2 separate regions of the Homo sapiens genome follow, and region 1 is linked to region 2. Evidence: fine-mapped expression QTL. A gene starts in region 2. The other region holds a variant in brackets. All regions are shown on one strand. Distances are between the middles of the regions.

Region 1 (14,515 bases), 360 kb before region 2:
GATTGACTGAGTTTGGGTGTCTCTGTCCTTCCCATGGACCCCCAAAGGCTGGTGACTCCGCTCTGCCCCCACTGCCTCCCCCGACAACACTCAGCCCCCTTCCTGAGGGAGCTCCCGCGGGTCCCTGGGCCCAGCCACTGACTCTGCAGAGTGAGAGGCACGGAGGCCTGGGGGCGATCCCGGGAGAGGAGGGCAAGCGCTCGGGGCGGTGGGGGCAGGGCAAGGCCCAGCAGCAAGCTGCTATGGCCGGGAGGACACCAGGGCCGGGGCGGTGTTGGGGTGGAAGCAGTGGGCAGTCCTGTGGGGAAGCTGGACCTGCACTGGCACGGGGGTTGGGCAGTGCACGAGGGGCACCCTCAGGGCAGACTTCAGGGGGAAGGAATTCAGGCTGACAACTCGAGGACGTGGGCACTGGCCCGAGAGCCGGGAGCCCTGGAGGGCTCTCTGGGATCTGGAGAGTGAGGGCCCAAAGCCTGCTGTGAGCAGTCTGAATGCACCAGGACAAGCTTGCTTCGGAGCCTGTGGGGGGACTCTTCTGCAGCCCAGGGCTCTCCTGACTTCCCTCAGGGTCACTGCAGCCCGGCAGGACCCCTCCACTCCGGTTCCTCAGTATTAAATAAAAAAGAACAAAGCGTGCATGGGTGTGGCTGGGCATTCTCATTTCTTTCAGGAAGAGCCACTAGAGTTTGGCTCATCTTCATGTTCACGACCAAGAGCTGTGTCTTGGGTGGGCTGGGCCCCAGGGGAGCTGAGGGCCCCCGGGCACATGCTGGACATACTGGTAGAGGGGCCCAAGCAAAGGGCAGGGCACGCAGTTTCTGGACTGCCCATGCCCAGAGCCCCAGGGCCACTCTTCCTTGTCCTCACTCCGCCCGGGGGCACTGCCTCCCGCTGCCCTGGGAGGTATCCACGGTGTGGGTGAGATGCAGGGGTCCTGCTCTTGGCATCCAAGCAAGAAAGTGACAGCGTCTCACGGCGACCGACCTCCGTGTCTCGGACTCGCCTGTGTGCACGGGAACTGGGCTTGGGGAGGCCACAATTTCCTGGCTCTCCACAGATGGGCCACGTGTCTATCTCTTGTCTTTCTGCCTTCCAGGACGGACAGAACCTCACCAGGTTTCAGGGCTTGAGGAGAGTTCCTCGGTCCTGGTCGCCTGTGTTGGGGGCCAAGAGCGTCCTGTACACACACCCATCTCCTCAGCCACGGAGCTGCTGGGATCCGGGTCCTGGTTCTCACCCTGGTTGTTGGTGAGGTGCCCTCGGGTGGGGTTCTGTCTTTGGGGCCTGTGCCCTCTCGATGACACGAGGACATACCCCTCCCTGTCCACTCTGAGGACGGGATGAGATGGCGCAGGGTGAGAGCCCAGGCTCATCACATGGGCATGTGCTGTGAGATCTCATCTGGTGGCCCCACGTGGGTTTGCATGGGCTTCCCACCAGCTGGGGGCAGGGACTTTGCCCTCTTTATGTCTGCTGCACACCCCCCATGCACAGAGTATTTGCTTTTTAGTGTTGGGGAGCGGAGCATCCGGCACGGACACAGAATAGGGCCCAGTGGCTGGTTTGGCTCCAACAGGGAGGACAGTCAGTTTCCCAGAGCTGCCCAAACCAAGCCCCACAGAATGGGGGCCTGAAGCAACAGCCGTGGACGCTTTCACAGCTCTGAGGCCAGAAGTCCAAGATCCAGGCGAGGGCAGGCCGGGTTCCTTCCAAGACTCTGGGGGAGAATCTGTCCCTGGTCTCTCTCCAGCTCCCGCTGCTGCCGGCCCTCTTTGGCCATCCTTGGCAAACCTTGGCACTCTTCGGCCCTCCTATGTGACCCTTGGCCCTCCTTGGCCATCCTTGGTGACCTTTGTCCCTCTTAGGTGACCCTTGGCTGGGAGGCGCATCACCCTGACCTCTGTCTCCATTTTCCCTTGGCCTTCTCCCCTGCGTGATTTTCTCCAAGTGCCCCCTTTTTAAGAGGCCGTCAGTGCCGCTGGATTGGGGCCCACTCTACCCAGTGTGGCCTCTGCTTAATCCCTCCTTAAAGACCTTATCTCCTAAGAGAGTCCCATTCTGAGGTACCGGGGGCTGGGACTTCCACCTGGGAATGCTGAGGGACATGATTCAACTCAGGGGTTCACGGGGCTGCAGGACCAGGACTCCTGACAGAACTGGATCCTTCCTGATGGCGGAGGGCAGGAGCTGGTTCTGCAGGAGGCCCAGGGAACGTTCCCGCCACCCCAGGGACTGGCTGCCTATGTCCACCTTGCCCTGTTCTCATTTTCGTCAGTGACGCAGGGGCTCTCAGGACCAGGCCAGCTGGACCCGGGGACCTTGCCTCAGCAGGACGGGTCTTCCGAGGGCCTGAGTCTGAGTCCGTCTGAGGCCGGCTGTGCCCGTATGTTCTGAGGTGTGGAGAGCCTCCCTCGTCCCCACCCCTAGGGCTGTGAGAAGCAGGGCACTGTGGGCCTTGCCATAGGCGAGGGGGAGGCCCGGCCACATCTCTTTCTCTTAGAGACAGCCTTCTGTCCTGGTGGGTCTCCTGCAGTGCGGCCGGGCTGCACCCTAGCTCGGGGTCCTGGTGGGTCTCCTGCAGCGCGGCCGGGCTGCACCCTAGCTCGGGGTCCTGGTGGGTCTCCTGCAGTGCGGCCGGGCTGCACCCTAGCTCGGGGTCCTGGTGGGTCTCCTGCAGTGCGGCCGGGCTGCACCCTAGCTCGGGGTAGGGGGGCCTTGCTGTCCTCCAGGTGGTTCAGCCTCCGCACACGCTCCTGGTCCTGGGCCCACCCCGGCAAGGATGCCATTGATGAATCCTCACTTGTTCCTCGCCTGGCCTTACTCTGGGAGCTGCAGCTTAGGGGATTGTGCCTGGGGACGGGGCTGTGGGGCGTAGGTAAGGCCTGGCCTGTGGCGCTCATGGGTCTGACACGCAGCTGCAGGGAACACGAACAGCTCCCATGCGGCTGTCTCAGCGTGGCCAGGGCAGAGTTCCTTTCAGGCCATCGTTCCTGGAGCCCACTGGGGAATGCCGGGACAGCCTGGGGGCTGCAGAGTAGGTGGGGTTGCACTGGGGTGGAGGTGAGGCTTTTGGGACCACGGCCCAGAGCCAGCTTCTCCCCCCGCCCCTTCCTCTGAGCCCGCTCTGGGCTCTGATGGATGAAGATGCTGAGGGCCCTACAGGTGAGCTCACCTTCCTAGGAGGGGCACAGATTTGGAACGTGGCTTTGCCAGAGCCAGTGTCCAACTGCCTCCTGTGTTTATTGCTTGGATGCCTCTTTCCCAGGTACCCCCACTCTCCTAGAAGCAATGACAGGAAGACGCAGCCCTGCCCTGGAGGAGGGGATGGGCTCTGAGGGAGCTGGGGTCTCAGGGGGCTTCTTCTTCACCTACTGGAGGTGGTGGGGAGTGAGCTGGGCCCTGTGGGTACAGAGCCTTAGACCGCCCATGGCCAGTGCGGTAAAAGCTTGGGATCTGGCTCTAGGTTCTGGGCCTGAGCAAGACACCCCACTTCTGTGGGCCCCGTTTTCCCTTCTGTAGAATCAGGGGATCACCCCCTCAGGCCTCTTGGAGTTTGGAACACCTTCGGTTCTCTGCCAGCTGGCTGGTGTTAGCTTTCACAAAGGAAGCAGCCCCGCTGGGGTGTCTGAAGGCTCCCCCAGAGTAAGTGAGGCCTACGGAGCCCTGGTATCCCAGGTTGCACAGAGCATGCGCCGACATTCCTGGATCCGAATTCCACCATCGTTCTGCTGCTGTGTGTCTAGACGCACGTGCGCCCATGCGTGTACATGTGTCTCTAGGTGTACGCACACGGCTGTCCGTCACGCATGTGTATGTGCACACACTGTCCATGTGCATGTACTTGCATGTGTGCATATGCGTGTGTGTAGATCTAGGCAGGCATGTTTATGCACGCACATGTTATGTACACGTGTGTGCATGAGTGCACGTGCATGCCCGTATTTGGGGACCTGCACGCAAAGGGCAGAGCACACAGTTCCTGGACTGCCCATGCCCAGACCACAGCCCTGTCCCCAGGCACGTCCTGCCCTGTCCCCAGGCACGATCCCCTAAACTGCAGCTCCCAGAGCAAGGCCAGGTGAGGAACAAGTGAGGATTCATCAATGGCATATGTATACACATGTATACAAACGTGCATCTCTGTGTGCATATGTGCATGTGAATGTGTACATGTACACGGGGCATACCTATGTGTGCATGTGTGTGCGTGCATGTGTACACATGTGTATGTGTGTACATGTGTGTATAAAGGTGCAGCATTTTGGTTTGGAAATCTTTAGTGCCTCAGATTAAATCAAAATGTCCTTGAGTGTCAGCGGCACAGCTGAACTTGTGCCCGGCTCGGTCACCTGGCTAGTGTTTTGCACACACATATGTTAACAGTGAGGTCATAAGCCCAGGGGTGCTTACTCTCATGACTCTCCAGGTGGAGGAACTGAGGCAGACAGCGCAGCTTCCCCAGGTTCCCAGAGCCCAGGGGCCTCACCCTCTGTGGTGAGGCCCCCACTGCGCCTATCTGGATGTGTTAGGGGCTGGTGCTGGGGTGGAGGTGCATGTCCTCTGAGGGTGGCCACGCAGGGCTGTTGGCCGGGTCCAGACTTTCCCCAGCCCGCGATAGTTTTCTTACCGTTTCTCTGTTCGCGTTGATGCTTGGTTCATCTCACTATTGGCAATAAAGTTTCTGATTTCCGAGAAATAAGAGTCTTCTTTCTCGTCTAAAAGTGCGTGGTTGTCCGACTCTGAGGTGGGAGAGGACGCGCTGGTCCCCAGGTGGTTCGTGAGGACCCCGGGGTGCTGGCTCACTGCGGAGGGGCGGGAGCATCAGGGGGCGGCCTCTCGCTGGACCCCTCCCTCCGTGGGGCAAACCAACCGCGAACGGGGTACACCTGGGGTGCTGTTAGGGAGGCAGGTTTCTTAGGGACACCGGAGAGCACGAGGTTCTCTTTAATGACCACGGTTTGAGGGGTGCCTGTTGGCTTCCTGAGGGGTAGTCTGTGGCCCTCTTCCCTGCCCGGCGCCCACTCCCCTGCTGTTCCCCCTCCCCCTCTGTGGGGCCTGCCCGTGTGGGTGCTCTGGGGGCTGCCCCACCCCGCGTGGCCCACCTGGTGCGTTCTCGTGCTCGTGCTTCTTGAGGTGCCGGTCCAGGTTGGTCTGCTGCCCGAAGCAGCGGTTGCACAGGTGGCACTTGAAAGGCTTCTCCTTGTTGTGGATGTTCCGGACGTGCCGCTGGAGGTTCGAAGAGATGCTGAAGGAGCGGTCGCAGTACTTACACCTGGAAGGGGCACACGCGCTCCTCAGTGCAGGCCCCGGCTCTGCATGGCAGGCCGGGCCACAGAGGGTGGGGGGAAGGGAGCCCGCGCCCCTGCCCCGTGCCCCGTGCACAGCTTTGCCCCGCCGTGTCCCGGAGGTTGCTGGATCTCCCAGCTGCAGAGCCAAAGGCATCCTGGGGAAGCTGTCCCTAGAAACAGCCCCGGCTTCAAGAAGCAGGGGTTCACGCCTATAATCACAGCACTTTGGGAGGCCAAGGCGGGTGGATCACGAGGTCAGGAGATCGAGACCATCCTGGCTGACATGGTGAAACCCCGTCTCTACTAAAAATACAAAAAAATCAGCCAGTCGT[G/A]GTGGTGGGCGCCTGTAGTCCCAGCTACTCTGGAGGCTGAGGCAGGAGAATGGCGTGAACCCGGGAGGCGGAGCTTGCAGTGAGCCAAGATCACGCCACCGCACTCCAGCCTGGGCGACAGAGCGAGACTCCATCTCAAAAAAAAAAAAAAAAAAAAGCAAGCAGGCGTTCACCCTCCTACTGTTCTGTGGCTGGCTGGTGGATCCCCCTGGAGTGTGCCCCGTGTCCCCTGGGCAGGCGGTGCGCCCGACCCTCCGGCGTCTCCTGCCCTCTGTTGTCTGGGTCTCCCTGGCCCCCAGGCCGCGGGGCCGGCAGGTCTGCAGCCGGAGGGCGACATGCTCCTTGCAGCCTCCAGAGGGCGGCCTTGCTCCATGGAAAGACACTCGGCAAGGCCAGTTTCCCAGCCGGAGGGGCTCCACAGACCAGCTCCCAGACCAGCTCCCTGTGACCTTCCTCCTCCACCCCTCGAGGTGGCTGGGGGCCCCTGGGCAGGCCCCACCTCACTTGGAGCCTCAGTTTGCCAGTCCATTCATGGAGGGCTTGGGGGCTGCCCTGGATGTTGCCACTTGTTGGCTGCCTCCTCTATTAAGGACACAAAGACCACACTGGCCCCTTTGGGCACTGCCAGCTCCCGGGCTCGGTTTATCTTTATTCCCCCAGGGTGGGCAGGGCTGCTGCCGGCCTGCACCGTGCACGTGGGGAAGTTGGGATGAGACCCCCTTCCTCCATCTGGCCTCCACGGCATCAGGCAGAGCAGGACTCTAACACCCTGAGTTTATCAGAGCAAGGCCCCTTGCGGCTGGAAAGTCGTCATAATGAGCGATCGAGGAGGGCTGCGTGTGGAGGGTTCCCCTCAGTGTGGGGCCCTTGGGCTGGGAGTGACCTTCACAGCCACACGTGGTGACCCTGCAGGCAGGGAAAGGGAGGGTTGTTCTCTCCCATTTTTAGAGAGCGGGGCTGAGAACTAGGGGGCCTGAGCGACATGTGCATTGAGCAGCAAGAAAATCATGCCTGAAACGAAGAGGGGGAGCTGGGGATGAGCTAAGGAGGAACCCCATGAGCTCTGTAGATGCACGTGCGCTGCCTCTGTGAAGACAGCCTCCTCCCTGGGGGGCATCCGGCGGGGGGCTGGGACTGGCTTACTGAGAGGCACCCGGCTGGGCTGGGCGACGGTGAAGGGAACCCTGACTGCATGGTTTTCAGTTGCACGTGGGTGCTTGGCATGTGCGTGTGTGCCATGCCTGTGTGTGCACACTTGTGTGTGCTCTTGGTCATCAGAACGCCCGCAGCGGTGCTCATCTGATCCCACAGGCACACACGCACTTGAACATTCTGTTTATATGATCATGCGTTTTCATATTTTGAAAACAAAGCAAGCTCCATGATGCCCATGGCACAGCACACAGAAAGTCTACCCACTGCAGCAGGATCCTGGCCGGGGGGGCCTGGTAGCAGCTGGAGACCAGGCCAGGGCCTCTGTGGGAGCCTCTGTGGAGGCACCAGGATGGGGCAGGGTTTGTTCACCCGGAGTGGGTGTGGCTGTTCTAAGCACAGTGGCCTTCGTTCCCACAGAGGACAGGACTCCGAGAGGCCCCACCCCGCCCCGACCGGTGCCGGTGGCCCGCTCCAGAGCAGCATACTGGTCACATGCCCTTGTCACATGGATGGGGACGTGCCTGGTGACACTCGGGAGTCCTGGCCTCCCAGACCGGGAGGGGCTGTGTGGCTCGGCCTTCTCGGCACGGTGCTGCCCTGTACAGGAGGGGCCTGGGCTGGTGTTTGCTATCACAAAAGCCTGGCGAGGGAGTCTGACCTGCCATCAACACACCCGCAGGGGCCTCCCCAAGGCAGGAAGCTTCAGTCCCACACCTTCCGGGTGCTGCTGCCGGGCCCAGGAGCTCAGCATTCCCCACGTGCAGGGGCTGCGGCCGTGAGAAACTGTCCTTGGAATCTCAGAGCCTGCGAGTCTCCCCCAACTCCCCAGGCTGCCTGGTAAAACCTAGCAAGTCTGAAAATGGGTCCCCTAGAGAACGGGAGGCAGTCCTGGGAGAAGGGCACTCCTCTCCCACGCCTGGCCGAGGCATATCCCCATCCCACTTCGTCCCAGCAAACTTCCCTGGTGCTGCCCTAAGGCTTCATCCACTCAATTCCTGAACCTTCCAACCTTTGCCGGAGGCCAGGCTCACTCTGGCCTCTTCAACAGTAGACAGGAAAAGAAGCATTGGTGATCGAAGTCCCTGAGCTCCCCGAAGTGACCCTCAGCCTTCTCTGCTCCTGATCCCAGGGGCCTGGCCTGTGGGCTTCTTCTCTGGGAGCCCCTGCTCCTGCCCGGGTCAGCTGAGCTGCCTCCGGGCACCCGGGTCCCAGCGTCTCCTCCCACAGCCCAGTGACAGGCAGCGCCCTGGCTTGGACTGGCCATCCACAAAGCCTGCCCTGGGCGGCGCTGCAGTTTTGTTTGACTCGGCCTGTGAACTCACACAAGAATAAGGCCGAGGATGGAGCCCTTTCGGCAGCAGGGTTGGAGATGCTTGGGTGCCCCCCTACCCGACGTGTCCCACACAATCTCCCAGAAAGGAGGGATTTTACACCCTCCAATGCATTTTCTCACATCCCCCACCCTGACACATCCTTAGACTGGAATGGTGGTGCCTGGCCCTGGGACCGCCATGCTTTTGAGGCTGACTGACTGCTGAGAAAGGACACACTGGACTCTGCGTCTCCAGCCCGGATGCAAAGCACCTGCCAGTCTGAGCATTCAGGCTCTGCCCAGCCAGAGGCTTCCCACCCAGCTGGGGCCATGTGCCCCTCTGGCATGTTGAGGCAGCCCAATCTGTCTGCCTGCCTGACTGTCTGTCTGCCTGCCAGTCTGCCTGCTTGCCAGTCTGTCTATCTGCCTTCCTGCCTGTCCATCTGCTTGTCTGTCTGCCTGTCTGTCTGCCTGCCTGTCTGTCCATCTGTCTGTCCACCTGCCTGTCTGTCTGCCTTCTTGCCTGTCTGCCCTGCCTGTCTGTCTGCCTGTCTGTCCATCTGTCTGTCTGCCTACCTATCTATCTATCTGCCTTCCTGCCTGTCTGCCCTGCCTGTCTGTCTGCCTGTCTGCCTGCCTGTCTGTCCATCTGTCTGTCCACCTGCCTATCTTCCTTCCTGCTTGTCTGCCCTGCCTGTCTGTCTGCCTGTCTGTCCATCCATCTGTCCATCTACCTGTCTGTCTGCCTTCCTGCCTGTTTGCCTGTCTGTCTGTCTGCCTGTCTGTCCGCCTGCCTGTCTGTCTTCCTGTCTGTCCGCCTGCCTGTCTGTCTGCCTGCCTGTCTGTCTTCCTGTCTGTTTGCCTGCCTATCTTCCTGTCTGTCCGCCTGCCTGTGTGTCTGCCTGTCTGTCTGCATGTGTGCTCAAACACGGCTCATTCAGTTCCTGGTTTCTTTGGAAATGCAGAGACTTTTGCAGAAAGTCCACCTAATGGCTCTTGCATAAACCCTAGCAATTGTGGATCCGAGGTAAGAAATGGGATTGGAAAAGAAGCTTGTTCATAAAACTGGAGAGCAAGTCCCTTGTGTGAAGCTCTGGGGCCGGGGAGAGCCACGAACAGGGCTGTGCGTTCAATTTGGTTGCAGAGAGCCCTGAACGTGGCCCTCTCTTGCTTCTAATCTAAATAAATGGCCCAGACAGAGAAGTCCATTTGAAATTTAGGGGAGCCGTGAGCCCAGGGCTGCGAGGGAGCAGAGTTCTCCGAGCAGCTGGGGTCTGCGTTGTAAATAAGCTGACAAGCGGCCAGTGAAATTGATGGTCTCACTGCGTAAAATAACACGCCCGTGAGCTCCAAAAGGAAGGAGAACGTGCAGGGTAGCCTGGCCCTGGTGCAATGCGGAGGGCCTTGAGAGGACCTTGCTGTGACCGTGCCTGCTGCACTCCCAGAGAAGCCATTGGCAGGGGAACAACAGAGTATGGGCAGGTCAGGGGGGGTGGCCAGGGCCCCCGAGCCCCTGAGCACTGGGCAGCGGCATCCTTCCTAGGATCCAGTGAGGTCTCCTGCAGCCACTACAGGGGGATCTGCTTTTGGTGACTGTAAAAGTGAGGGAAGAGGAAGAAAGAAGAGATTTTGAAACCCAGCCGTAAAAATACAACTAAAAAAGAAAGGACATGCACGGGCCGCGTGCAGCCCCCGATGGAAGCACAACTGTGCCTCCCTTGCACGCTCCAGCTTCACACAGAAGGCAGGATGGAGCCTGGGGAGATGATGGAAGCACACGGCAGACTAGGGAGTCAGCAGCCCTGAGGCAGGAATCTCGGTCCCAGCAGGAGTCCCGGGCAGCCCTGCTCGCATCCAGGCTGTGACTCCAGGCTCCACTGGGCAGCCTCCCAGAGAGACCCCCGGGCCGGCTGTCAGGACGAAGACCAAGGAGCAGCCCCTCTCCCCACTCCCAGTTCAATTTTCATGCTTCTCCAACCCAAATCCCGCAAAGCCTATATGCTTAACTTTTTTTTTAAGAAATAAGACTGCCATTAACTCAATCTCACCTTCCCGCTTCACTCAAAGACCTCTAGGCCAGGAGAAGCTAGGGGCCAAGTTACCTCCAAGAAACATATTTGGTGCACCAAAGGCTCTACGTTCCCTACCTCAGGGCTTTGAAACACATTCTGAACGATTTCAGGTCATCTGAGGCAAGGACTTAAACGGAAGAGGCTTCCAATGTCATCTGGTTTGATTACCCTATCACTCCAGGCAACCCATGAGAAGCCTGCTTCCTCCTGCTTGCGCGGGGCTGCGTCAGCCCGACCTCTCCAGGGCACACACATATGCACATGCGGCGGGCACACACGTGGGTGCTGGCACCGGAAAGGGGCTCACACTGGGGCGGGCATGGGGGGTTGAGCTCCTCTTGGCAGGCTTCTGGGGATGGCCGGCACTTTCCCTCCTCCAATTTAAAATCCTTCTGATTATCAAAGCCAGTCCAGAAACCACCAGTGGTATCAAAAGGAAAGCTACACGCTCCAAACCCCTCGGCACAGACCTGCCTTGAGCCAGATAAAGTCAGGATTTGCAACACAAACTTGCAAAGCAATTATTGTTACCAAAGTCGAAACTCACAGATTGGAGAGAGCAAAAGAAATCAATGATAATTAAATTCTTCTATAAACACCACCCCGACCCTCTAGGGGCTCTTAGCACACAACGCTGTCCAGAAGTCGGCTCTCATTACAGAAAAAACACACAGCTCATTTTCTGGGAGGGGACCAGACCAAATAAATCTTTCTGCTGCTAGCCTTTGTTAAGTTGTAAGTCACTATTTTTTGAAGGGTGGGTAAGGGGGGGCCTGTGAATTGGGGAGGGCTGTGAGCGCTGAACAGATGACCCGTAAGTGGTATAAGCTGTCATTTACCCTGCGAGTTGGGACACAGCCCTGGGGCAGCCGGGGATGCTTGCTCTGTCTCAGAGTGGGGGTCAGTGACCACGACATGCACAGGTGCCTCAGCTGGTCTCCTTCCCCAGGGATGGAGACACAGACTGAGTCCCCAGTGCCTGCACTATCATGTGGCCCCTCTAGCTCTGTGTGGCCAGAGGACAGAAATCTTATGCTGTCAACTTAAGCCGTGTGAAGCACTCTTTATCCCCAATGGCCTCTGTGAACAGACACACCCTGCATGTGTCACTAAACCAGCCTTGGCAGAAAACCAGCGTTTCCCCATTCGCCTCCCAGTTACCATTGTCTGGGGCTCTCGCTTAAAATGCCCACTCCCAGGCACTGACCCCGGTGATTCATGGGGCATCTCTGAGCCTCGGGCCCCTCATCTTTGAAATGGGATGACAAGCCTGTTGGGAGGCTGTTGTGAGCCCCAAATTCAATGCCTCCCCCATCCCGATGAGCTGTGTGACTGCTTCACTGCAGGTGCCAGCCGGCTCCTCAGATGAGAGGAGCACGGGGGGATCCTGGAAGCAGACGCACCGCTTCCCATCCAGGCTGTCCCCGGGACCCCGTGGAATCCCTCAGTGGGCTCCAAGTGGGGGGTGGGGACCCGCATTTGCACGGAGTCTCACTCTGCCTTTGGCCCACTCCCTGGCCCACCAGAAGTGGGGGTGTGGGGGCAGCTATGGCCGTCGTGAGATGAACGGAGTTGGGCTGGGTGTGGGGAAGCTGAGGTTTTCTCCCATGTGGACCCTCTGGGCCCTGGCTCTGGTCAGCCCTGCTCTGATGAGGATCCCCTGCCCCAGTGAACACCCTAGGGTGGGTGGAGAGCTGCTCCCTCACATCTTTGAGAGCCAGGCAGATGCCTTCCAGAAGGTTCCTGGGCACCTCCTGCCTCATCCTCAAACATCCTGCTGAGGCCAGGAGGGGAGGGCCAGAGTGACCAGAATTCAGCACCCGGCCCTGCCCACTGCCTGCTCACTCCAGCAGGGAGCCCTGGGAATGGCATACTTACTCCTAGGAGTGGGTCAGCGGTGCACGGAGGCAGGCGGCCCCGCCCCCACACCCAGCCCACGCAGCACCTACCTGTACGGCTGCTCCCCAGTGTGCGTCCTCAGGTGTCTGGTGAGATTGGCTGATCTGGGGAAGATCTTCCCACAGTACCTGGGGTGGAGGGAGGTGGGGAGGGTGAGGGAGGATTAGGGTGGGCTTACATGGCCATTTCCCAGAAATGGTTTCAAGCTAATGCTCGGGGTCTCACACCTGATGCACAGGTGGACCCATCCCAGCATCCCAGTTTCAGTCCCTTCCACGGCCCTGAAGCCCAGCCTCAGTTGCAGAGCAGGCTGCCATGGGCCACAGTAGTAGACAGAGCAGCCCCTGCCCCCTGAAGCGTCTCGGCCCCTCAGTCTGGCGGTGAACAGGGCAGGCTCCAACAGACTTGGACAGGCCTGCACCAGCAGAGGGTGGCCGGGAGGGTGTCATCCTGACACTGCAGAAATTGGCTGAGGCTGTAGCACTGGGCTTCCCATCCCTCCAAGCGCTGAGGTTAGTCACTGACCAGCACACCTCAGGCCCAGCCTTCCCAGTTCAGGCTGGGCTGAGGTTGCATATTCTTGAGCTCCCAAGAGCACAGCATGGCGTGAGGCAGGGGAGGCCACCCAAGTCACTTATTTGCAAAGCATGACCTCAAGCAGATAACCAGCTGATTGCAGTGCTGTGCTTTCCTATGGCCGGGACTCTGAGTTTTTCCTGGAAGCACAGGTTCACAGCCACAGGTGTGGCACTCGAGCCCCGCCAGGGCTGTCCCAGCAGCACCAAAGGGCCCCTCACCTGCACGTGTATCGCTCCTTGCCCTTCCTGAGGATGGGGTCGGAGAGCGTTGGGGGTGGGGACCGGAAGTTGAAGGGGTGGTGGGGGAGGGGCTGCAGGGAGCTGCCCGAGTCCGCCTTCATGGCTGCAAAGCTCTCCAGCTTCTCTGTCATGGTCTCTATGGCTGACATCTGTAGGCATAAGAGTGGGAGGTTATGGACTCAGCTGACTCTCACCTGTCTTCAGGGGCACGCACTGCTGGGGGTTCTGTACAACAGCATATCTTAGGGTGCTCAGGTGGGCACTGGAAGCAATGGTCTCCTAGTATTTTCTTGGACCCTGGGTTGGATTTTTTCACCTTTCTGTAGTCAGCCCTGCTCTTGTCCTTCCCTGAGTCCCAGTCCCTCGTTTGTAGTTTAAGGTCTTTCCTGCAGGAGCTGAAACTGATCTTTAGCAACCAGCCTCACTGCCCGGTTTGGGCGGGACCTGAGTGATACAGGTAGCTGATGTTTATGATTACCCCTTATCTGACCCAGGCCGGCAAAATGCCCAGCTGACTTGACTCCTGGCCAGCACTTCTGGTTGGCTAGTTTGGGTTAAATGCAGAATTACATCTAGTTTAACATTAAAAAGTTTATTTTTTAGTCTTGAAAAATTACAATAGCAACCTGAATCTCCGTTTAAAGCATAGATTGTGGGCCTGCAGAACCACTGCCACCAAGTGGCAGCATGCCATAATTGCAGGCAAAGTACTAAGGAATTCAACAGCCTCTTTAAGACTTAAACCCACAAAGGAAATATTCAAAATAATAATGTGACATGTCACATGACACAGGGCAATTTGATATGGGCAACAGGAGCTGCCTCTCTGCTCCCTGGAGATGCCCAGGGCTTGCTCGATTAGGAGAGTGGAAGCATGGGATTGGTGGGCAGAGCTCTGATCAGAATCCCAGACTGTCCTGGCCCCACTGAGGTCTCTGACAATAGCGACAGGAGAGGGGAAGGGCTGGGCTGATGGAGCTGCTCAGTGTCAGCCCTGCCTCTCCCAGCTCCCCTTCTCTTTGAAGATTTGGAGCTGACCTCAGTGGAGAAGGAGATGGGCCACCCTGTGATATCTGCTGTGTGCCAGGCCCTGTAGGGGGCTGCACAGGGGCTGAAAAGGAAGAGTGTTCATCATCCCCTGAGGGGTAGCAAAAGGCAAAACAGGGAACAAACCCCGGGCCTCGGCACCACACACCCAGCCTGCTGAAGGTGGGGCCAGTGCTCCCAGGGCCCAATGCCTGACCCACAGGGCCCTCCAGACACCTTTGCTAAACAGGTATTTTCATAGCCTGCCTCCCCTGGGAGCTCCCAGAGAAGGGGATGAGGAGGGAGGGCAAGGGTGAGGCAGGAGCTGATACAGATGCAGAGGGAAGGGAGAGCTTGGGGTTCCCCAGGTGCTGGTGTCACTGGGAGGAACTGGCCAGGGTGCCGGTCCTTGGCACCCAGCCTCCACGGAATGGGTGTGGGGGTGAGGAGAAGGGCAGGTGAGGACCTGCGTCATCAAGGGGCTTCATATAGGGCTCGCTGCCTCTGGGCAATGCTCAGAGCCAGCTCCACAGAGGTGACCCGCCCATTTACAGCAAGACCCTAGCCCTGGCTGCCCACTAGCAAACAAAACTATCCCATCACGCGGCTGGGG
Region 2 (14,515 bases):
TGCATACAGAATTGAAAAAGAAACATTCCATTGATATAATTAAGCCAATTTTCATGGACAGAAATAGTTATAGTGGATATAAAATAAGCAAAACCTTCACCAGAATCTGACTTCCCTCCTTTTCTGCCCAAAATGTTAACTATTAAACAAATATGATCTTGGAGCGGCCAGCACTCCTATCTTCAGGCCTCGGGGCATTGTTCCCGCGTCTCAGGCTAGGCCGGCCAGGCGGGCCAGCCCAGGCACCTCCAGACCGTGGAGGATTTGATGGCAAAAGCCCAAGAGTGAAGTGGTCAGACCAGGGAGAGGCCACTCCTCCCCTGCTCTGGGCCCACCAAAGCTTGGGAGCACTCCTGGCCCAGGATGACCACCGTGGCCCTGGCTGCAGCCTAGGAGACACCCAGACTTCAGGAGCCGTGGCCCACGCCAGGCTGGACCAGGGATGTCAGCAGCCGGCCCCTTCCACCCTGCAGCTCAGACCAACAGGGCAGCAGCAGCTCCACCTCCCCCTGACTGCTGGGCGGTGGGTGGAGGCGGTGGGTGGTGGTTATTCCCCTCCAGATCTGAGGGGTGGCAAAGGGCAGGTCCTACACCTCCCGGGCCAACCTGAGCCTCCTGCATTTGCTCCGGATGAAGGCAGTGAGCGAGGGAGTGTGGAGGGTGCAGGCCAGGCCACCCGACCAAGGTTTCTGCTCCTCTGTGCCTGCCCTTGGGGACAGAACACCCACAGAAGGGGCAGGAGCTGTGGGGGACGGAGCCCAGCGGGAGTCCAGCCTGCAGGTGTGAGGTCACTTACACGCTGGACGCACGTGATGTCCTGCCTGCTTTTTAAGAACAGACCTGCTACAAGTTGAGCATTGGCCTTGAGAAAATGCTTAAACCCTGACACGCACACACACACGCGCACACACACACACACACAGAAAAAACCCTATGGAATTAACGGCAGCCTGTGGTGCTCTGTGGGGGAGGGGAATGCTACATAAGAAGCCCTGGAGGTCTTCATTCCACTGAATTTCACTGGAGCCTCAATCTGCTGTGTGCCCTCCCAAGAGTTCCTCCACCTCTCTGCGTCTGGGGTTTCTCACTCTCAAAAGTGGTGCCTGCTCGCCTGCACTCTGTCTTCCCAGGGTCAGTGAAGGGAGGAGGTGTCCTGTCCCCCAAGTGCACTAGGGAGCCCGGCCCGTCTCCCGAGGTTGCCGGCAGGGGCCGGGGCTGCGGATCAGACTGGGCAGGCGGGTCTACCCTGGAAAGCCAGACCCCCACCCTCTGCCTCCGTTTCTCTGCACCGTCTTCCCTCCCCCTACAGCCCCTACTTAAACCCAGGCGGCGCGCGCTCCCGCGTCTCTCGGGGCGCGGGTCGGGATGTCGCAGGGAACCCAGGCAAGCGGGGGGCCTGGCGCCCACGGTGTCCCGCACGAGGTCGAGGGTCGGCGGTTGGGGACGCGGAGGCCGCCCTCCTCCGCAAGGGAGGCCAGGAGGAGGGGACCCCGGGGTCCAAGCTGGGGCTCTAGAAGGGGAGAGCGCCGCTCCCGCTGGGCCAGGGTCGGGGCGCCAGGCTGCGCGGTGTGGACGCGGGCGCTGCTCCGCGGTAGTTGGCCGCGACTTTGTGCGCGGGGAGTGGGAAGTCGGCCGAGACTACCGGCCGGCCCGGGGTCCCCCAGGCCCCGCTCCCCGACCCGGCCCACGCCGTCTGCAGCCCTCGGTGGCTCGATTCTGAGCCCGCGGCCGCCGCTGCACCGCGGCGAGGCCCCAGCCAGCTGGCTTCGCTCGCGAAGTTTCCTTCCCGCACGGGGAAGTCGCCGGAGCTGCTCCTGGTCCTCCCGCGCCGGCGACGGGAGCTGCAGCTTCCAAGACTCGTTACACGGGTTTGATTCAAAACCTGATAAATTGTATTTAACGCTATTTGAAAATTTTAAACGAAATTATTCAAAAGATTTTTAATCCCGGATAATTTTTGTTGAAACTCTAATTATACATCACCTTAATTACCAGCCCAAGCCCCCCAAGGATCCCTAATTGCCTCCTAATTGAATAAAACAGGGGGCTAATCGGGCCCACAGCGGCCCAGCGAGCTGCCACCAGCCTCACCTCCCCTGAGGGGCCCGGTGGGGGGAGCCCCTGGCTGCTGGGTCCCCTTCACCCAGCCTCCCGGCAGAAATGGCAGACCTGGTCCCCTGCCCTGCGCACTGCCTACAGGAGGACTTGGGAGCCGAGGAAGCCTCGGGGCCAGGAGGGGCCAGGATGTCGGGCTGGCACCTGCTCTGGAAGAGCCGCTCACAGGACAAGGAGGACCCCCCGAGTGGGCGTCTGGTGGTTGGCGAGCCAGGCATGGCCGGTGCCTGTCCCCAAGGAGCCCACCCAGCAGTTGCTCCACAAGCCAGCTTGGCAAGCCCCTCCTGCCAGCTTCCGAGCCATGGCACACCTGCGCAGCCAGGGGCTGAGGGAGGGGGCCTGTGGGTGACACACAGTCCACTGCCGTGGGGCACCAAGCCCTGGCGGCCAGCCCCGCACTCCACCCCTCCACCGCAGCCTCTGTGTTTTCGTCCGAAGCGGGGCAAGACGCTGGATTCCCGCCGGACGTCCTGGCGCTGCTGCCCTAACCGGCCTTCAGAGGGAAGGCTGCCGTCCTGGCTCTGGGGAGGGGACTGGTGGACGGGGCCAACTGCCCCAGGGAGGGTGGGAGAAGGGAGGGCCCAGCCAGCCTGGCCTGTTTCTACGAAGAAGGAAGGAGGCTGTGAACTGGGCCGCCAGCCCCGCTTACCTCTACCCTGTCTCCAGCACACCTTCCACACGCATCACCCTCAAACACGAGCAAGACACACACAGTCCCCATCTAGTGGGGGCTGCAGCTCCCCCACCCCAGGGGCTAGATGGGACTTGTGGAGAGGACACTCCCCCAGCCCTGGGGTATGTGGCATCTAGGACATGGGGTCTGCCACCTAGGTGGGGATCAGGCCTCAAGGAGCAGCTCTGATGGGGGTGCCGACTGGCACATCCTCCTCCTGCACAGAGGCCCCCAGCTGTGCTATGAGGGCGATGGTGATCCAGAGAGCACCTTGGTGGTGCTAACCCCCCACCTGCCCACCTGGCTCACAACAGCCCTGGAAACAATAAGCTTTTGTTAAGCATTGAGTTTGTAAATGTGGGGCTGCAGCAGCCCCTACCCCACCGGCCCTACCGCCCTGGCTTCAGTAGGGGGGACCCTGTCCCTGAACTGTCCTCACTCTGTTCCTGGCCCCCAGGCTCAGGTGGAGGAGGCTGTAGGTTTCCCATCAGCTGAGCCACAGCCCCGGCTTGGGTGCCCCAGTGGCCACCTCTGTCCTTGGAAAGCTCAGCTGGAAGCCCGGGTCACCCCCGGAGCCGCCACCATTTGGCCCTTCACAAGACCCAATCCAGAGGACTAACCCACCTGAACTGAGGCTTGGAGTGGGGTCTCCAGGGAAACACAAACGAAATTACACCTCCAGATGCACACTCGGCGGTGGCCCCCGAAATGCTGGGTCATGGGGTCACCTCCACTGGCCTGGTTGCTGTTCTGTGCCCAGCCTGAATACCAACCTGGTAACCATGACCTTGCCCCTGCCCAACCCCACAGTCCCCTGACCTGGTCAGCATTGTGGGGAGGGGAGGACCTGCTGGCTGGAGTGCTGGCCCTACCGCCTCTGACTCGGGTAATGGACTATGGTCCCCGGGGAAGTTCACATCTGCTTAAAATATCGCCTGATGAAATGAAATTCTTCAGCGGATCCTGCCTTCTTGCTCAGGGCAGGCAGTGTGATCCTGAACCTGCCTCAGCCACCTTGGGGGGCCTGGGACAAGCGGTCCCAGCTGTGGAGCCTGGAAGGAGGGGTTCCCAGCGCTCGGCCAAGTGTGGACAGAGGGCCGAGGCCTGGCAGTCACCTCTCATGGGGTTTTTCCTCACTAAAGACTCTCGGGAAAAGGAAGCCAGCGCTCGGCGCTCCCGCTGGGCCCGGCTCTCCGGCCTCCTGGCCAGATGGCTGCCAGGCACCACTTCTGGTCCTGAGCGGACCCGGTCCCGGGCCACCTTCCCCACCTGGCAGAGGTGGAGCCGGCGGAGAGCTGGGGCCTCTCGGAAGTTTCCAGGGCCGCGCGGGTGCGCCGAGTCCGCCTCTCGCTTGCAGCGAAGGCCCCGGCGTCAGCGCGGCCGGTTTCCCCTTTCTCGTTCCAGCTTAGGGCCCATCCTGGGCGAGGGCCTGACCTGGCGGCCCACACGCAGCCCGGTGGTCCCGACTCTGAGCAGGCCCGCGGTGCACACACAGAACCGAACCCGAACACGCACACGCACACCCCACGCGCGGAGGGCCCGCAACGCCGCGCACAGACAGCCCCTTCGCGTCGGCGGCGAAACGCCCGGTCTTGTTCGCACCAAGAGGGGTCAGAGGTCACGGGAGGCCGAGGCCGAGGGCACCCGGCAGCGGAGCGCGGCGGGAAGGGGGCGCCTCACCCAGGGGCCGGGAACGGCCGATGGCGGGGCGCAGGAGCGTCCGGCACAAACTCGGGAGCTGCTTTTCCCTGGTGCACAGAGCGCGGGGCCTACGGCCGCGGGGCAGCTGTTGGGACGAGCCGGGCGGGCCCCGAGCCGAGGGAGCGGAGCTTCGGAAAACCGCCGCGAGTCCCGCGCGCACCCGGCTCACGTTTGGGGGCTCGGCCCCGGGAGCTGCGAGGCCGGCCTGGAGGGACCCGGCCCCGGAGGCGCGGACGGAACGGCGTGGGTCGGGCGGGGACCTCGAGGGGAGCGGCCCGGGCGCCTCTTCTGCGGGTGGGCGGGCGGGCGGCCTGCAGAGGAGGGGGCGGCGGGAGCAGGCGGCGCCGATTCCGCTCCGCGCGGCGCTGGCCGCTTCGCTGCAGCCGGGGCTTCGGCGGGGCTGCGGGAGCCGCGCTGGCCGGGCCGCGGCTCCGCCTGTCCTCACCTGCCCGCCCGCCTCACCGCGGATGGCGCCGGCGACCGGGGCTGCGGGGTGCGCGCGGGCTGCTCGGAGGCGCTGTGGCGGGCGAGGGCGCGGGTGGCTGGAGCACCCGGCCCGCGGCAAGGACCGGCTGGCGGCAGGCGGGGCGCGCGGAGCCCGGGGCTCGGCCGAGACGGAGCGAAAGAGAAAGTAAGACCGAGGACCGGGCAGCCTGGCCGGGGCAGCTCTGTCCCCGCCGGGCCCGGCTGTGCCAGGCAAGCGGGTACAGAGGGGTCCACGCGGGCCCGAGGGCGGCAGCGGCGGGTCGGGAGGTGGCCGGGTGGGTCCCTCCTGTCGGAGGCACTGTCGCCCCGGCGGCCCGCGCAGGCTGCCGGCGTCCCAGAGGAGCGCCCTCCACCACGCGGGGCACAGCCGGGGATAAACTTCACGACCACAGTTCCCAGCCCGGGCAAAAGTCTCCATTTTGCTCCCCAAGTGGCTGCGGCTGTCCCGCCGTCGCCACCCCTGCCCCTGCGCCCGCGGAGCCGGGTGGGCGCCGGCCCGCGCCCCCTCCTCCGCCCCTCCCCGGCTCGGGGTCTCCCTCCTCTGCGCCCGGCTGGCGGACGCCAAAGGCGGTGCTCTAGCGCCCACTATTTCAAAAGCCCGGAATATGATTTGACCAGGACTGAGAGCCACTCGGAGAGAGAGAGGGAGAGAGCGAGCGGGGAGGAAAAAGTTGCTCTCCCCTTTCGTCAACTTTTCGCTAACTTTCACTTTTCGCTCCCCTCCACCCCCGGCCCTCCCCCTCCGCCCCCCTCCCCGGCCCCCACCGCGCGCCTCGGGTTCCCGGGCCCGAGCGCCTGACACTGGTGGGGGGGGAGGGGGTTCCGCGGGGAGGGGGCCGGCGCCTTCGGGGAGCGCGCGGCCCGGGCGCCCCGAGCCTCCGCGCCGAGCCCGGTCGCCCCGGAGCGCGGGAGGCGGAGCAGCCCCCCGGGCCGCGCGGCCGAGCCGGGGGCCCGGAGCCGCAGGCGCGCCGGCCGCGCCCCGACGCGCACCCCTGGCCCGGGCGCCCCGGCCCGGCGGCCCGGGCCCCGGCGGCGCGGCGCGGCCGAGCGCGGGAGACTTACTTTTGGCTAGCTTCCTCGCCCTCGCCTTGGATCGCATGGTGTCGGCTCGCGGAATCTCTCTCCTCCTCCTTGAGTCCAGAAGCAGCCACACACTATCTTCATCTCCCCAGCATTGTCAGTTTGGACACCTTCGCACATGCGCACAGAGCACTCAATCTGACACCCCTCGCCGGGGCCAAAAAAACTTTGCAATGTATTCATCATCCTCATCGTCGCGCCGCCGCCGCCGCCGCCGCCGCCTCGGCGCGGGATTGGGGGGCTCTCCTCGGCCTTCTCGGTCTTCGTCTCACTTATCTCTCCCCCCTCTCCCCCCCCCCCTTTTCAGCGCAGCTCGGAACTGGCCCTTTAAGAAAACATTCCGTGTTCGGCGCTCCCGCCCGGGGCCCGCACCCCGGACACTTTAAAAGGACCCAGGTGGCCCCGGAGGCGAGGTGACTATCCCCCCACCCTGCCCCTGCGTCGCGGCGCGTCGCGCTGCTGCTCCCGCCCCAGCCGGGGCCGAAGATGGGGCGGCGGCTGCGGTTTTCCACACGACTTCCTTGGATCTCGGGGCACACGCGCCGATAGTTCGGACGCGAGTCCGGGCTGGTTTTGCTCCGTTTTACTGCGTTTGATTACTAATTTAAAAGCTTTGCGTTCCCCGTCGCCCCGGCCCGCTTTTCTCCTGCATTCTCCCCTCGGCCCCCGTCCCCGCCCTGCGATCGCTGGAGGGGGCGTCGGGGCTCGCGCGCCAGAACCCGGCTCCTCCGAAGCCCCCTCCGGGCCCCACCGCCCCCCTCGCGCCTCCCGGCCCCCGCCTCCTCCCCTTCGCCCCCACCCAACGGCTGCTGCTTCGGGCTTCGCGGCTCAAAAACAACAGCGGAGGCGCCGCCAGCTCCGCGCTCCGCCACTGCCCAGGCCGGCGGGCGGCACTCGGACCCGCCGCCCTCGGTCCCTCGCGAGGCCACGGAGGCCAACACGCCTCGCACGGGGGGACAGCGCGGGGGCAGCCGTCCAAACACCAGGCGTCCTCGGCTGGTCGTCCCAGGGCGCCCGCACCTCTCCGCCCGCGCTCTCCTGCCGCCGCGCCCCCAAGGTGAGTACCCGGCTGCGCGAGCGCCCGAGCTGGGCCACCTTCGGGGACCCGGGCCACTGGGGACACTCCCCTCTGGCCTCTCGGGGCCCAGGTGCGTAGCGGGCGGAAAGGCCAGCGGCGCAGGTGGAGCAGCTCGGACGGGAGCCGACCAGACGCTTCCTCTTCCCCTGTAGCCCCCAAACTCCGAGGCGCTGCGGCGGAGGGGCCGGGCTGAGCGCAGGCAGGGTGGCCCGGGCCCAGGAGCCTGACGGCCTGAGTGCGGATTTCTCATCTGAGTATCTGGGAATCGAGAATGAATTGGAAGGAAACCGAGGCGCTGCCCTGGCCAGGTTGCTGCCCCGCACCCTTCCGGAGCACCGAAGTCCTGCCCGGCAACGGGACTTGGAGCTGCCGCAGAGTCAGCCTGAGCCCGAGGCAGGGGTCGCGCCCGCGATGCGGGGTCTCTGCGCCGCCCCGCGAGGCTCCTGGCCTTGCCCTCCCTGCCCTTTGTTGTGTAATAAGACCTGTGGCGGCTCCACTGAGACCCACACGTGCAACTCCGCGCCTCCGCGTTAAAGGAGGTGAAACGCAGCAGCCCTGAGAAACCCCGAGACCCCGGTGTCCTAGCAGAGGCGCCCCGGATGGGGAGGGGCGCGGGGCCGGCGCCACCCCAGAGGAAAAGCCCAGCGGAGCCGGGTTGGGCAGGAGCTGGCGGCGGCGGTGCGCTGGGCCTTCTGCCTTGGATCCTCCGCGGTCGGCACCGCTTCCCTGCTCAGATTCGAACCCAGATTCGGCTCCCAAGGCTCCCACGGCTCCAGGGTGCCCAGTCTTGCAGCCAGCTCGCCGCCCGAGCCCCGGATGGAGGAAGCGCTCACTGGCCGCTACCTCTGCTGTTTCTGGCACCAGGTGAGTGTCGCCTAGAGAAGGGCCATGAGCAATGGCACAGCCCCATTCCCTGCCGTCCTTTCGAGGGTCTATCGACCCCTTTACCCACCCTCCCCACACCCTGACCATCTTTCTACAGGGGTTGGGGCAGAGAACAGCTCAGTTTACAGGCCCGGCTCTGGAGGTCTTGATCTGCCTAGCCAACTAGGGCACCGCTGCAGCTTTGCACCGCCAAGGCCGGTTCTGAACCTGCTCGCCCCAGTGGGTGGGAGGTGCTGGAGCCCAGGAACACGGGCGCTGTCTTGCCTAAACCCCGCCAAGGGCAGGTTCCCAACGGTGGGCCCAACCTGGCTGGAGCTGCTGGCTAGAAAGGACTCAAGGTCACTCCCATATCTCTGCACCCAGGTCCCCCTTGCTCCTGCCTGAAGCCTCTGCAGGTTTGGGAGGAGGCCTGGGGAAGTTACTATGGTGCCTGCGAACCACTCCCACCTGCAGAGAGGGTCCCTTCCCCACCCTCACCCTGCAGCCCAGCAGAGGCCTCCTTTGCCCCTGGCCTGGAGGTAGCCAACAGATGCCAAGGTTGTGCAGTCCTGGCCTTCTTCTACGGGTGCCCCAACTCTCTCAGGCCCTCTCCCTGCCTCCTCCTCCAGCTCAGGAGGTGGTTCTCAGAACCCTGGCCAGGCTAGGACAGGACAGCCATCCCTGGCCTGTTGCCAGCCCCTAGGGAAGAAGGGCAGGAGGTATGGGAGCAAGCTGGTCTGTGCCATCTGGTCCTTGCCCTCCACCAGGCTGTTGGGTAGGGATGGGGTCATGGATCTGCCTGGGAAGGGGTAGCTGCCGGTCAAGCCTCGCCAGGGAGACAGCCGGGCTGCCTACCTGCAAGGCACTGACGCAGCCCTGGCTCCAGTGGGGCAGTGTCTCCCGAGCCTGCTCGAGGAGCCCAGGCAGGCTGTCCCCAAGGCCATGGCCCTGGCCGAGGTTGCATCCTGGCCTGGCCAGGCCCTGCCCCCGCGTGGCCAGACTTAGAAGCGGAGAGCAGGTCAGGCATTGAGGAGTCCCGTGGGGAAAAAGGGTGAAGCAGGGAAGATCAGATGCAAGTCCTCCCTGGGGCCCAGTTCTGTGTCCCTGCCTGGCAAGGGCTTTGGGGGGCTTGGAGAACAGGTAGGGCAAATGTAGGCCCAGTGGGGAAAAGGTTGATACTAAAAGGTCTAAGGGCAATTTTCAAACCAAGTCTAGCTCTGCAGAGCCTTGAGGCTGATGCCAGGCCCTGGGGCCCCTGCGCTGGGATTGTAAGTGCTGTAAGCTCATTCCTACTGACCTCCTTGGGTCGTCCAAGGACAGTGAGTGTGGGTTGGCCACATAGAGGCTCCTACACTGGACAACTGCACGCTGCTGTCGAGTTCCAAAACCAATTTCATAGCTGGGGTCTTGGAGGCTAGAGCGGGGCTTTAACCACCAACTTCTGCTGGGGTCTGGGCAGAGAGGGAGTCCATGGAAACTCGATTTCTCCATGAGCCCTGCAGACTCCCAGTGTTTCTAACGGCTGGAGACCCATGACCAGGTTAATTCCTTAGGGAAAAGGCCGGGTTTGAGAGCCAGAAATGCTGGTCCTGCCGTGCTGGAGGAAGCATCTTATTAGCGAGTAGGAGGCCCCCAAGCCCCAGGGGTTCCCCAGAAGCCCATTGAGTAGCAGAACTACCATGCCGGCCTGCCCTCCACTCCCGGAATCTACAAATGCATTCAAGGGCTAGAGGGCCCCTTCGCTTGGCCAGGCCTTGTGCCCCATGCCAACTGGCAGGGTCAGAGCAGCCCCAGCTGCCCCTACCCCCAGCCCCTCAGGCCCCAGGGAGCCCTGCTTCGGGCCGTGTGTGCAGGACAGGAGGTAGGCATGGCACCTGGCAAGATGGACTCACCTCACCAGGTTCTTTCTCTCCCACTTTCTCTCCCCTCACCTCACCCCTTTCTCTCCCACTCCTCTGTGCTTTTTGAACTTAGCCATGGGTTTTCAGATACTTGGCCTCAGGCTCTATTGAATTCCAGGTCAAGGTTTTACTGACTCCACACCCCCACCTTGTTCCTCCGGGTAGCAAAGAAGCACACAGCCTCTGGTTTACCAACGGGCTTTCCTGGGAGATTGGAAATGCCCCAGGTGGGATCCAGATCGCCAGCGCTCACCCCACCCCCAATACGTGGGCCACTGAGTCAGGCCAGGATGAGGCTCTTGCTCCCCGGGCATGTTCTCCTGCCCCAGACTTGAGCAGCAGGAGCCAGGAGACCACAGGGGCCCTTGGGGATGGCTGACTTGGCTCCCACTAGACAGAGGGGAACATGGAGGAGGGCTGCTTGGACCCTATACCTCGCAGGGGACTCGATGGGGGCTGAATGCTGGAAGGAGCCTGCGTTTGGTCTAGAATGGTGGGGGTGGGTGGGAGACACAAGTCATGGAAAAGGCCATTTCTTCCCTATTGAGACCTCTGAAATGACCCGAAGTGGGTGCTTCCTCCAGCATCATGCCTCAGCCGCACACTGGGGCTACAGGAATCCCCCCAGACCCTGGGGTCAATATTTCGGGGCCCCTTTGAACCTTCTTCTCACCCGAGGCCTGGGAAACCTTCTTGTGCCCCAGAATACTTGGAGAGGACAGGACACAGGTCCCAGTTGTGGCCCAGTGGTGGCAAGGTTCCATTCCCTGCACTGCTCAAAGGTGGGGGCCTCCCAAAGCCGATACCCGATTCCTGGTCCCAGAGTGGGTAGCTGGGAGGAGTGGACTTCCTAGGAATGTGAGCCATGTCGCTGATTTCGAACAAACCCCAGATGTGTGGAAACTGACTTATTTTGATTGCAAGAGGGTCCTTGTCCCTTGCAGATGGGCAGCTTCCGGGGACCGGCTTGCACGATGCCGTGGCCACCCCAGTGGAGACCCTCTGCCCGGCTTTGTGTCCTGGCGTCCCCACCAGGGTGCCCAGCTCTCCTGCGCAGATGTCGGGAGTATCTGGATGCCCCATGGGCACTTCGAGGGCCCAATCCGGAGTTTTTTGTTTTGTTTTGTTTTAAGAGATTGAGACTGTGAACCTGAACTCCCTTGATCTCCTCCCGTTGGGCCCAGGAGGGAGCCGAATCCAGGCCCAACCGGGCTCACTGAGAAGGTGCAGGAAGCCCCCAACGACTCCTACTCGTGTGCGGCCCATACTGGGCCAGGACGCTGCAGTGGCCGAGCCGCTGGGTGTCTGCAACGGGGAGCTCCCCCGCCGCTGGGGGCAATAAACGGAATCGGTTTCACACGCTTTCCCTCTTGATCTAAGAACCTTTAAAAATCCGCCAACGAATGCTGTTGCCTGGATGCGCTGCCTATGACCTTCAGCCGTGTGTTCACGCGCGCCCGCAGCCGTGGAGTGGCGGTCCCTCCTGCCGCCCGCAACCCCGGGGCCGCCGGTCTGCGCACACCGGGAGCAACTTCGTTACCCACAGCGCCCGCGTCCTGCGGCTCGCGCGGAACTGCGCGCGGGAAGGTGGCAGAGCGACGCTCCAGAACGCTGCTTGCGTAGACGCTGCCGCTGCCTTCAGATCCCAATTCGGCCGCGCGCGGGCGGGGCCCTGGCAGCAACGAAAATGGCGAGCCTCGTAGCCTTCCGGGCCCGGCGGCCACATTCCGGGAGTCGCCAGGTGGGAGCCCGCCTTCCGTGTCCCCAAACGCCCAGAGCCCGGGACACGGGCCGGCGGCCGGGTCACCAAGCCAGTTCCCGGAATCGGCTCGCGCCGGAATCCAGACTCGGCTTGCAAAGCCCGCTCCTGCCGTCTCTCCGCAGCGCGCCCTGCCCCCCACTGCCGGCCCTCTTAGCTTCAAAACCAAATTTTGCCTTTCATCCTGAGAGATTAATACCCCGCAGGTGAAACCGTGGAGACGGAGCTGCGGTGGGTTTCTTTTCCACGCCTCAGTTTCCTCGTCTGTGAAATGGGACCAGGCGCGCCTGTGCTTCTCCGGGAGTTTATTGCAGGGCTGGCTGGAGAGAATGGCTGGGTGGAAGCTGCCAGGAGGAGGCCCAAGGCCGCCCACCCCGTGGGCCTCGTTTGCTGAGCGGGGGTCAGAGGCGTGCGGGACAGGGCGCGCCCCACGGCGGCTCTGGAGGCGGCCCGGCCCGTCCCTGTCTCCTCCCCTCGCTCCCCCTCCCCCGGCCTTCCCGGAACTCTCCTCGCCCGCTGGGTGGAGGAGGGGCGAGGGCCGACTCCGCCGCCCCTGGGGTCTCCCTCCTCCCACCCCCACCGCAGAGTCTGGCCCGCCCTGGGCTTTCCTCTCAGGTCCCTTTGGGTCTCCAGAAGCCCGGAGGTTTCGCGCAGACTCGAACCTGAGATGACACCACCCAGCACCCCAAATCCTGCAGAGTGTGGAGGGGATCTGGGGAGAAGGCAGGGGCTGCCCGGGCGCTCTGGCTGCTGGGGGTGGGGGACAGGGCCTGCCGGGGAAGCGGGTCGGGGGAGGACTGGAGACCCAGGCTCCCCTAGGTACAACGAACCTCGCGGGAGGGAATACGCCATCCCCGTACCCACTTCCGAGGACGTAGGTCTTTTGGCACCGGCGGCAGCCGCGTTCCCACACATCTGGGCGGGGCCCCGCAGCATGGCCTGGGGAGCTGAGGCTTCGGGATCCGGCACAAACTACCATTCTAGGTGTAGACGGAGGAGGTGGGGTGTGGGAAGCAGGGGGCCATGGTCTGAGCAGACCTTCTCACCTCTGGGCCTCCCACCTCCTGGGGCAGGACTTACGGGGAAGGACCCGAGGGGAGTGGGGTGTCCATAGGGACACCCAAGGGTCTATCCCTGCGAGCTTTGCTTTCTACTAAACCAATAATCGCAGTGGTGGTGGCAGTCGAGACACGGCTCAAAGAGCCGGCAAGAATAGAGCAGAGACCAGGATCGCCCCAGGCAGGGAAAAAATGACCAGTTCTGTAGAGTGACCCGAAGGTGATGGAATCACTCGGGCGTCCTCCTGGGAAAGAGCTGCCTGCTCCCCCGCCGCCGCCAGTACACCGGCGCCCATGCCCCGGGGGCTGGAGAGAGCAGCCAGGCACAGGTAACTCAAGAACTCCAGTCCCCTCACGGGTGCCGTGCTGTGGGGCGCCCTCACCCCCACACTTTGGGTCCCTGGGCCTCCTCATCAAAGCAGGGGCCTGAGTGGCAGGAACACCCCTGTGTGCAGAATAGTGCCCCCTGCAGCCCCCACAGGTCACCTCTTTGAGGACCTAGGTGGGGCCTGCCCTGGGGACTGGGGTGAAGAGGGCAGGTCCAGCCTTCAGCAGCCCCTCCCCCATGACTTCAGTGGAATTACAAGGGGAACACCCAGGGCAGCTCCCGTAGGCTGCACAAGGGAAGAGGGGAGGGCTTCTACTGAGGTGAAACAGTGACCCACCCCTCCCACACCGTCAGCCTCCCTCCCCTCTCCACCCTTCAGTGCTGGGACCCCAGGGCCCATAGACAGCTGGGGGAGTGGGGAGACAGGAGGAACTCAAGCTCAGCTTCTGCCTCCTGTCTCCTGGGACCCTCGGGCAGCCCCTCCAGCTTCCTGGGAGTCCAATTTCCCAAGGTAGAACGGTGGCGGCAGAGCCTGGCCCTGTGGTGGGGCAGCTGCACCCCGATGAGTGGCTTGCAGTTCCTGGAGCCCTGCAGGTTGTTGGAGAGGCAGGGAGCCCTTCTCCCTCCTGCCTGCCCTCTTGCACTTCCTCTCCCAGAACCCAGCACTACTCCCAGAGGCTCTGAGCTGGAGCCCTAGAAGGTAACCACCTCCTGGCTGGACACAGGGCAAGTTGGGGCCAGGCGTGAGGACAGGTGCCCCAGGAGCCACCTGCTCCACTCATCCACAAAGGCCTTAACTGGCTCAGGGGCCCCTAGCTCCCAGTCAAGCCCTGCCCTCCTGACCTTGTCCTGCCCTGGTGCTGCCAGTCGGGTGGAGATGTCTAGGGGCCAGCTGGTCTCCTGGCAACTGAAGTCCGCGCTTCCCTTCCGTTCACTCATTCCTTCCTTTCCTCATGCAGGAGGCGCTGCAAGGCTCCGTGCTCCTGGAGCTTCGAGTCTATGGTATGAGTTAAACAGAAGGGTATCTCCTCCATCAGATCTACAGGAGGGTGTCTGCTCCATCAGACCTGGAGCTTCCAAGGCATTTTACCCGAAGCTCCAGCACCTGGCCCAAGGCTGGGCTGTGCTGTGTCCTCAGTGAAAGAATGGATGAGTCACAGCTGAATGACTGAAGAGCTGAACCAGTAGGTTTCCCTGGGGTTTCCACAGGCAGTTTCAGCCCAGGGGAAGACCCAGGGAGATGAGGGCCACCTTGCAGGACGCTGTGGTGTGGAGGCAGCAGCCTGGGGCAGGGACTGTGCTGAGTGTCTGAGGCCGAGCCACCCCTCTGTAACCTCTATAATCCATCAGGTCTCAGAGGGCCGTCCTATGTTCAGTAAGCCAATGCTAGCACCATGTGACGAGGACACAGCAGTGAGCAGCTGCCCAGGCCCCTTGCACTGTGTTTGGAAAAGGAAGCTGGCTTGTTCAGG

Which allele goes with the higher level. Positions count from the first base shown, and alleles are read on the strand shown. Sizes are in standard deviations (SD) of each study's normalised expression.
With allele G in place of A in region 1, the expression in spinal cord of the gene that starts at base 6,131 in region 2 is lower (large effect, 1.2 SD a copy in GTEx).

Evidence for each region.
Region 1: its variant is fine-mapped to the expression of PRDM16 in spinal cord (GTEx, PIP above 0.99).

Annotation. Positions count from the first base shown.
Region 1 is chr1:3,416,338-3,430,852 of GRCh38, reverse strand. PRDM16 (PR/SET domain 16) reads right to left here. Exons shown (of 17, transcript NM_022114.4): 11 at 12,856-13,025; 12 at 12,109-12,186; 13 at 5,103-5,272; 14 at 4,628-4,802. Among named protein-coding and RNA genes, the nearest start is that of ARHGEF16, 31 kb to the left of the region's middle. RefSeq lists enhancers at 9,689-10,189, 14,345-14,515. The variant G/A (reference allele first, on the strand shown) is at 5,621.
Region 2 is chr1:3,060,819-3,075,333 of GRCh38, reverse strand. It overlaps PRDM16 (PR/SET domain 16), which reads right to left and starts at 6,131. Exons shown (of 17, transcript NM_022114.4): 1 at 6,038-6,131. The coding sequence starts at 6,074. It overlaps LOC124903827 (translation initiation factor IF-2), which reads left to right. Exons shown (of 5, transcript XM_047436614.1): 1 at 1-5,120; 2 at 6,363-7,112; 3 at 7,286-7,997; 4 at 14,003-14,227. The coding sequence starts at 3,471. The coding sequence ends at 6,386. PRDM16-DT (PRDM16 divergent transcript) reads left to right here and starts at 7,609. Exons shown (of 6, transcript NR_015440.1): 1 at 7,609-7,997; 2 at 11,032-11,122; 3 at 11,279-14,227. It also overlaps the pseudogene LOC100420339. RefSeq lists enhancers at 1,807-2,655, 7,238-7,812, 14,481-14,515.